2 linked regions of the Homo sapiens genome follow. The protein of the gene in region 1 purifies or fractionates together with the protein of each later gene. This does not show direct contact. Each region holds a gene or a part of one and is shown in the gene's direction. Other genes may lie near its edges. The genes, in order: NAT8L and KIAA0232.

The links.
Region 2: the proteins of NAT8L (region 1) and KIAA0232 purify together in Homo sapiens (affinity purification with mass spectrometry; 3 studies listed by BioGRID and IntAct, with this or other methods). This does not show direct contact.

Annotation. Positions count from the first base shown.
Region 1 is NC_000004.12:2,057,111-2,061,210, forward strand, and holds the start of NAT8L (N-acetylaspartate synthetase), read left to right. Parts: upstream 1-2,216; 5' UTR 2,217-2,401; coding exon 2,402-2,777; intron 2,778-3,887; coding exon 3,888-4,052; intron 4,053-4,100. UniProt on the Homo sapiens protein: Catalyzes the synthesis of N-acetylaspartate acid (NAA) from L-aspartate and acetyl-CoA. Promotes dopamine uptake by regulating TNF-alpha expression. Attenuates methamphetamine-induced inhibition of dopamine uptake.
Region 2 is NC_000004.12:6,780,939-6,784,538, forward strand, and holds the start of KIAA0232 (uncharacterized protein KIAA0232), read left to right. Parts: upstream 1-1,788; 5' UTR 1,789-1,903; intron 1,904-2,837; exon of another isoform or gene 2,838-3,600.

The DNA of each region.
Region 1 (4,100 bases):
AGGCAGAATCTCAGTCTGTTGCCAGGCTGGAGTACAGTGGCACGATCTCAGCTCACTGCAACCTCCGCCTCCCGAGTTCAAGTGATTCTCCTGCTTCAGCCTCCCAAGTAGCTGGGATTACAGGCGCCTGCCACCACACCCGGCTAATTTTTGTATTTTTAGTAGAGGCGCAGTTTCACCATGTTGCCCAGACTGGTCTCAAACTCCTGACCTCACGTGATCCACACGCCTCGGCCTCCCAAAGTGCTGGGATTACAGGCATGAGCCACCACGCCCGGCCCATATTTTTCATTCTTAAATTGATTAGGCTTTGTGTTTCTAGATGTCCAAAGTCAACCAAAAAACCCCGAGGATGCTAGCTAGATGCTCAGAAGCCATCCGGTATGCGTGGCTCCTTCATAGCAGACGGCCTGACAGACCCCGTGCCAATCAACCTTGGCCTTGAGGCCTCACGAAGTTCTTAAGCGCCCACCGCACCTGTCCTCTTTCCCCCCATGCGGGGTGAGATGGCCCGGGAATGAGCCTTCCCAGCAGAAAAACTTACATCTAGAATGTCGATCATCACTGCTTTGAGAAGAGAAAATTTTTGATCAAACACGAGAAATGAGAAAAGAAAAATAGCCGGAGCTATGTGGGATTCTCAAAGATTATCTGGCCCAGAGACACCTGAGTACAGGGCCTCAGTCCCGCCTCCCCACTCACGCCCGGGGCAACTGCTGGAAGGCATTTTGTTCTTTCTTTTCTTTCCTATAGTGTCCGCCTGGCCGCCTCAGCGTCATCTTCATGTTCCTGGAATTTGTGACAAATAATGTACACCAATCAATAGCTTATGCCATTTTAATGCAAATTCTTGGTGAATTTAGGAGCTGCGTCTTCATTTTTCCTTTAAAAACGCACTTGCAACTGCTGCGAATGAGAGCGCGTGCATTCAGACCAACCTGAGTCTGTCCTTCCACGCTGCAGTCCTCAAACTTGGCCCCAACAAACTATTTCTATTCGTTTTGCCTGTTTTCTCCTTTAGGTTGAAAAGCTGACAGCGGGCCCCAGACACTGAGGGGGCGCCTTCCCAGCTTGGCTTCCCCTCCCCCCCACGCCCCCACCCCGTCCCCTGCCCCTCTCCAGGGCCCGTTCTCTGGCGGACGGGGCTGTGGACCAGTTCAGCCGCCCCTCCCCACCCCACCAGGGCGCTGCGGCCTCACTCCCACGTCCACGGGCAGGCCCAGCCCCTCCTGGCCTTCAGGTGACCTCAGCTGCCCGGCTGGCCCCAACTCCACCGCACAACGCAGACTGCGGGTCCCCAGGCCTGGACCCCTGGCCCCGTCCCGCCCGCGCATGTCGGGGAAGCTCTGCTCCGGCAGCCCTCGGGGTGGTGCTGGGAGGTCGCGCAGAACTGAAGGGGGCTAGGTTCGAGAAGCGCCGAGGATGGGGTCTGCGACCGCCTCCCCGCACCTGAGCTTCTCCGCCCCAGCCTGCGGCGTCTGCAGGTCCTACAAGGCGCAGAGCCCCCGCTGCACCTGCACCGAGGCCACGGGGCGCATGCGCGGCCGCGGGGGGCGGGGGCCGGGCCGGGAGGGGTCCTGCGGGCCCCGCATCCCCGTGCCCACTGCGGGGCTCGGACAGGGGGGCGCCGCGCCAGGCCGCAGACCCCGCCCTTCCGCGTCCCCACTCCGGCTGCCCGTGCGGCTCCGGACGAGGCTTCCCGGGGGCTCCGGGCCGGGGCAGCCGCGGCGCCCTCTCCCCAGGTCCACCGCGGGCGCTGCTTTCAAACAAAGGCAGGAGACGGAGCGGGAGACGCTGCCGTGACTGCTCCGGGCGGCCGCGGAGGAGGAGGAGGAGGACGTGGCGCCGCGATCGCCAGCGGTCGGGCCCGGGGTCGGGGCGCTCCCAGGCGCGCGGCGTGGGAGCGGGGGGCGGGGCGGGCGGCGCCCATCACGCGCTCCGCGGCCGGGTCCCGAGCCCCGCCGGACGCCCCCGGGCCAGGAGCCCCCGCCCGCGCCGCCGCCCCCGCCCGTGCCGGGCCCCTCGCGCTGCCCGGCCGCCCCGTCGCGCCCAGCGAGCCACCCGGCGAGGCGGGGGCGGCGTCTCCCCCACCCCCGCGATCACATGGTGACCCCCGGCAGCCAATGCAGTGGACGCTAGGACCCTGCGGGCCGCGGGCGCCGCGACTGCACCGGCGCCGCCGCATTATAAATACTTCTCCAAAATGCGGCGCAGCTCCCTGCGCGCGCCCCGGCCGCCCGCCGCCTCCGCCCCGCGCCCCTGAGCTGCCGCCGCCGCCGCCGCCGCTGCCGCCGCCGCCGCCGCCGCCGCGGGTCCGAGGGCGCCGCGCCCTTGCCCTGGGCCCGGCCGTGCCCGCCGCCGCCCGGCCGCGTCCCCGCTGCCGCGCCGCCCGGCCGGGTGCATGCATTGTGGGCCTCCCGACATGGTCTGCGAGACGAAGATCGTGGCCGCCGAGGACCATGAGGCGCTGCCGGGGGCCAAGAAGGACGCGCTGCTCGCCGCCGCCGGCGCCATGTGGCCCCCGCTGCCCGCCGCGCCCGGGCCGGCCGCCGCGCCCCCCGCGCCCCCACCTGCCCCGGTGGCTCAGCCTCACGGCGGGGCGGGGGGCGCGGGGCCGCCGGGGGGGCGCGGCGTGTGCATCCGCGAGTTCCGTGCGGCCGAGCAGGAGGCGGCGCGCCGCATCTTCTACGACGGCATCATGGAGCGCATCCCTAACACGGCCTTCCGCGGCCTGCGGCAGCACCCGCGCGCGCAGCTGCTCTACGCCCTGCTGGCGGGTCAGTGCGCCGGGCCCCCGGCTGCCGCAGTCCCTCGGGCCGGCGCGGAGCTCCCCCGCCCCGGCGTCCACGCGGACCCCGCGCCCGGCTCCCGGGGACCAGCCTGGGAAGCCCCCCGCTTTCTGCCGCGCCGGGCCCCGCGCAGGGCTGGCTATGGGCGTGGGGATGGGCGCAGGGCCCCGAGCGGGCCGGAGCCGGGGAGGGTCCGGGGTCCGCACCTGCGTCCCCGCCGCGCAGCCCCCCACCCCCACCGCCTCCCCTGTCCCCTCCCGGGCATCCTGGGTGGGGGCGGGTGCCAGGGCAGGTAGCGCCCGCCGCGGCTGGGCCCCGGCGAGTGCCTAAATATAATCTGCGGGCGGGGGAGGCCGCCTCCCGCTCGGTGCTAATTTATGAGGGGAAGACAGCCGGCGCCGCGGGGGGTGCGCGCGCCTGGCACAGCCGGGGCGGTCGCAGAGGGCGGCCCCTTCAGCGTCTTTGGGTGCCCTTCCCCTCAGAGCTTCCTGCCGGGGTGAGGGGGTTCGCTCCCATTTTACAGATGAGGCGCTTGAGGCCGCGTAGGGAGGACGCGACTCCCCCAAGGTCACGGCAGCCGAAATGCGGCTGGAAGCGGTGTGGGGCCTCCCTGCCCTGTCCCTGCCCTCAGAGCTCCCGGACGCTGGCCAGGAAGGGCTCTTGCTGGGGCCCTGGGAAGAGGGGGTCCTGGAGCCCGAGGCTGGAACGTGGGACACCCCCCTTCCTCCTCCCCCCTCCCCCCTCCCCCGCGCGGGGCCTGGTCTGCGGGGCAGCTCCCTGCCAGGATCTGCCCACCTTGGCTTCAGTAGGCCAGCGTGGGCAGAGTCCTTCCCGGCCCGGCCATCCCGAGGGTGTCCTGCCGTGTTTGGAAGCTCAGAGACCCGCCGAGGCTCATTCCAGGCGGTGGGGGTGGGTGGGGTGGCTGTCTTCACCGCAGGAAGCTTGGAAATAGGGAGAAGTAGAAAGCACCCGAGATGACCCCGGCTCCTCCACCAGGAGCGCGGCCGGGCGCGGCGTCCCTAGCGGGCTTCGCCGGGGTGGCGTCTCTGGGGCCTGGGGACCCCCGCCGCGCCGCTGACCCGCGCCCTCTGCCCCCAGCGCTGTGCTTCGCCGTGAGCCGCTCGCTGCTGCTGACGTGCCTGGTGCCGGCCGCGCTGCTGGGCCTGCGCTACTACTACAGCCGCAAGGTGATCCGCGCCTACCTGGAGTGCGCGCTGCACACGGACATGGCGGACATCGAGCAGTACTACATGAAGCCGCCCGGTGAGTCCCGCTCCCGCCGCTCCCCGACCTCCGCCCCAGACAGCCCTC
Region 2 (3,600 bases), 4.7 Mb from region 1:
CAGAACTGAGATATACTGTTATTACTTTTCAAAAAATTTTGCTGTTAATACTCTTTTGTAAAATATGATGTAGATGACAGATATGTCACCAATGTAGCAAAAATCAAAAGCTGACCATCCTTTGCAAATCCCCCATACTTTGGTCTGTGAAATCCTGGAGCCTGGAGGCACCTGTGAACTAGGCTCTGAAGCTCTGCTACTCTCCCCTCCTCTACTCCCAAGTGGCCCTGGATTTCCCATACCCTTTCCATTCTCGACACTGTTTTTAGAGTTTGAGTTCCAGGAGCACAGGGACTGTGCGTTCCCGGCACTGAGCCAGGTCCACAACAAGCACTCAGAAGAAACTGACTGAATGAACGTGTGATTTATGACGATATACATTCACCTGAGCGAATGCTCAGAGAATACAATTAGAAGCAAACTGGTTAAGGGAGACAGTAGTGTAAAGGAAACGAAACCCCATATTTCAGAGCCAGGAGCCTGGGTTCACATTCTGTCTCCTGCAAGAGGTGGTTTAGCAAGGTCAGAAGGCCCTGTCCACTCGGTAGCAGCCAGGCTTGGGTGAAATCACTTTCTTTCAGCCTCAGCTTCCTCACCAGTTAAATGCGGATGACAAAGATTTGTCCCACGATTTTTGTAAAGAACAAAAAGATATGTTCGCAGAAAAAACACTCTGTAGATAGTACGTAAGCGACAGTTCCTCGGTTTGTCCTTCCATGGATGCATGGAGCATCTAGCCAACTCAGCAGATGACCCCTCTCCAGTGTTTCAGCATCTGCTTCTCCCACAAGCCCGTGAGCTGGTGCAGGAAATTCTCCAACAGGTTCTGAACAGAAAAGCATAGTGCCTGGCACCTAGTGGGTGCTGCATAAATGAACAAATGACCCCAGGTAAGTCACTCCTCCCATTGGACCTCTTTCTTCTAAGTAATCTCCCTTCCTTTTCCAGGTCCATGATACTTATTTGCTTTTTTAGAACAGGCCTAGGAGTCACATTTAGGGAAGGTAGGTGGCTGTGAAGACACTTTGATTAAAAGGTTAATGCACATTTTTGGTTTCCACTTTCGAAGCTTCCAGAATTTATTTTTGCCTAGTTAATAAAAAAAGAGCCATGTCACATTTCTTTAGCTTGTCTTCTGGGTTCCTTAACAACAACAACAAAAAATTAAAGTCTTTATTTTAAGCCGCCTACTCCAGCCATCCCAGGACGCGGCGAGGAGGGGGCGCGGACAGGTGGCGCGCGAGCCCGGGAAGGCGGGGGCTGCACCGGGCCGCGGGCGGGGCCGTGCACGCCGAGCCCCACTTCCCCAGCGCGGGCCGGGGGCGGGGCGCGGCGGCAGAGTTCGGGGGCTTCTGCCGAGGGCAGTCCCACGTGCCCCTCCGCGGGAGACGTCTCCTCTCCGACGCCCAGCACGCTGGGGGGCTCCCGCTTCCTGCCTGCCCTCTCTACTGCTTGCCCTCTCACCTCCCAGCGGCTTCCGCCGCCCCGGCCAAGCTGCACGGCGCGTCCCGGGCCCTAGACCCCCACCCGCCAGGCACCAGCCCCGGCCTGTCCCCTCGCGCCGTCAGCCCGCGGCCCACCGCCCGCGCGCGCCCGCAGCCCAGCCGGAGGGAGGGGCAGGGGCGGGGACCGGCCGGCGCTGATGTAATCCCGGCACCCGGGCGGAAGGATATGGAGCGCGCCCCTGGTTGGCGGGGCGCTGAGGCCAGTTGCCGGGTAACGGAGCGGAGCGGCTCCCGGCGCGCCGCCTCCCGCCCTCCGCGGAGTGGCGCTGGGGCCGCCGCCGCCGCTTTACGTAAGGCGCAGGCCAGGGCCGCCCGGCGCTCGGCAGCCGCCCGCAGCCCCTCGGAGCCAGAGGAGAGGCGCCCCCGCCGGCCGCCGCGCCGCCCGGCAGCCTCGGCAGGTACTGCGGGCAGGCGGCGGGGAGGGAGGGCGCGGAGCAGCCCCTCGGCCGGGTGGGCGCGGGCCGGGGAGGCCGGACGCTCGCCGCCGTGGGGCTCCGGGGCCAGCCCGAGGGAGGCCGGGCCGCAGCCGAAGGCTTCGGGGTCAGCCCAAGGGAGACAGGGCCGCCGCCGTGGGCTCTGGGGCCAGCCTAAGGGAGGCCGAGCCGCCGCCGAGGGCTCCGGGGCCAGCCTGAGGGAGACCGGGCCGCCGCCGGGGGCTCCGGGGCCAGCCTGAGGGAGGCCGGGCCGCCGCTGATGGCTCCGGGGCCAGCCTAAGGGAGACCGGGCCGCTGTTGATGGCTCCGGGGCCAGCCGAGGGAGGCCTGACCGGCCCCGATCCTGGTGGTGCCCGGGCGTGCGGGTGAGCTGTGGGCCCTGGGACCCCCGCCCCGACCCCAGGACGCCGGGACACCAGCTTGCGGCTCTTGCGCCCGGGTGGGCTGTGGACGATGAGTCCGCACAATGGGTTGCCGTTGGCTGCCTCCTGCCTGGGGCAGGTGTCGCCGCGCCGGGGCGGCTCTTCTAGGGGAGACGAGGCGGGGGTGCTTAGACTTGATAGGACGTAGAGCCCCGAAAGTGGGCGCGGGAGGAAGGCTTCGGCCGGTGGGAGGCGCCCGGCGTCCCCGGCAGCGGGGTCAGGCCGGCAGCCTGGGCCGCTCGCTCGCGTTCCCTCCGTTCCCCTCCCCTCCAGCATTGTCCTTTTGGGGCCCCGGGAAGGGAAAACCGCCGGGCGGGGGAGGAGGGCCGCAGGCGGGCGGGGCCGGGAGGCCGGCTGAGCGACTGGCGCGCCGGCCTATGGCGCGGGGCGCGGCGCGGGGGGCGGGCCTGGCGGGCGGGGCCGGTGCGGCGCAAGGTTTGGCGAAGGTTACAGCTGGAGCTAGGAGTGACAGGCCCACAGTCATCCGTGCGCTGCGCGGCAAACCCTGTCGCGAGGGCGCCCCGAGTTGCTGCGGGGCCTGATCCGGCTCCTTTCCAACAATACGCGTCTGCAGCCGGCATTTCTAGAGCTCTCTGCTTCTTCCCGCTGGAGAAACCAGTGTGTGTCGTGTTGGAATGCTTCGTCTTGCCCTAGAATTCAGCTTGCGTCTTGTGGTGCGCAGGTGACAGGACCTGCCGAACTCTTGGTACAGACCCCTAAATCATGGCAGAACTGTCTTGATTTCTTTTTTGCCACCTTTCCGTTTTTGTCCTCTATAGGCAAGCTATAAAGATTTAACCCAGTTAAAAACAGGAGGGAGATTCAGCGGAGAGGAGGCATGCGAGATTCTTTGGAAAAAATTATATAAATGTAGTTCTTGCTAATAATTACCTGGGTTGGATACTTTGACTTACTGTTCAAGTTCCTAAGAAGGGATTTTACATTTCTGGGTCTTGTTTTAAAAACTGTTAGAAAGCTCGTGAGGGGGTAGGGACAAGCAGTTTTGGTAATAGGCGATGCTGTGGATAAAACTGTGCGGTAAAATGCCCAAGCTAGATTCTTCCTATGCAAAATAAGACCCGTTCCAGAACACTTTGACCATTTCGTGGACTTAGAATTTAAAGGCGGGTGAGGGCGGGGGGGGAGGAGGAGCGGATTCTATCACTCTGCATCCTCAAGGTCAAATATTCTTCCATCAGTTATTTTGGATTGAACCATTCTTAAATAGGTCTCAGGATC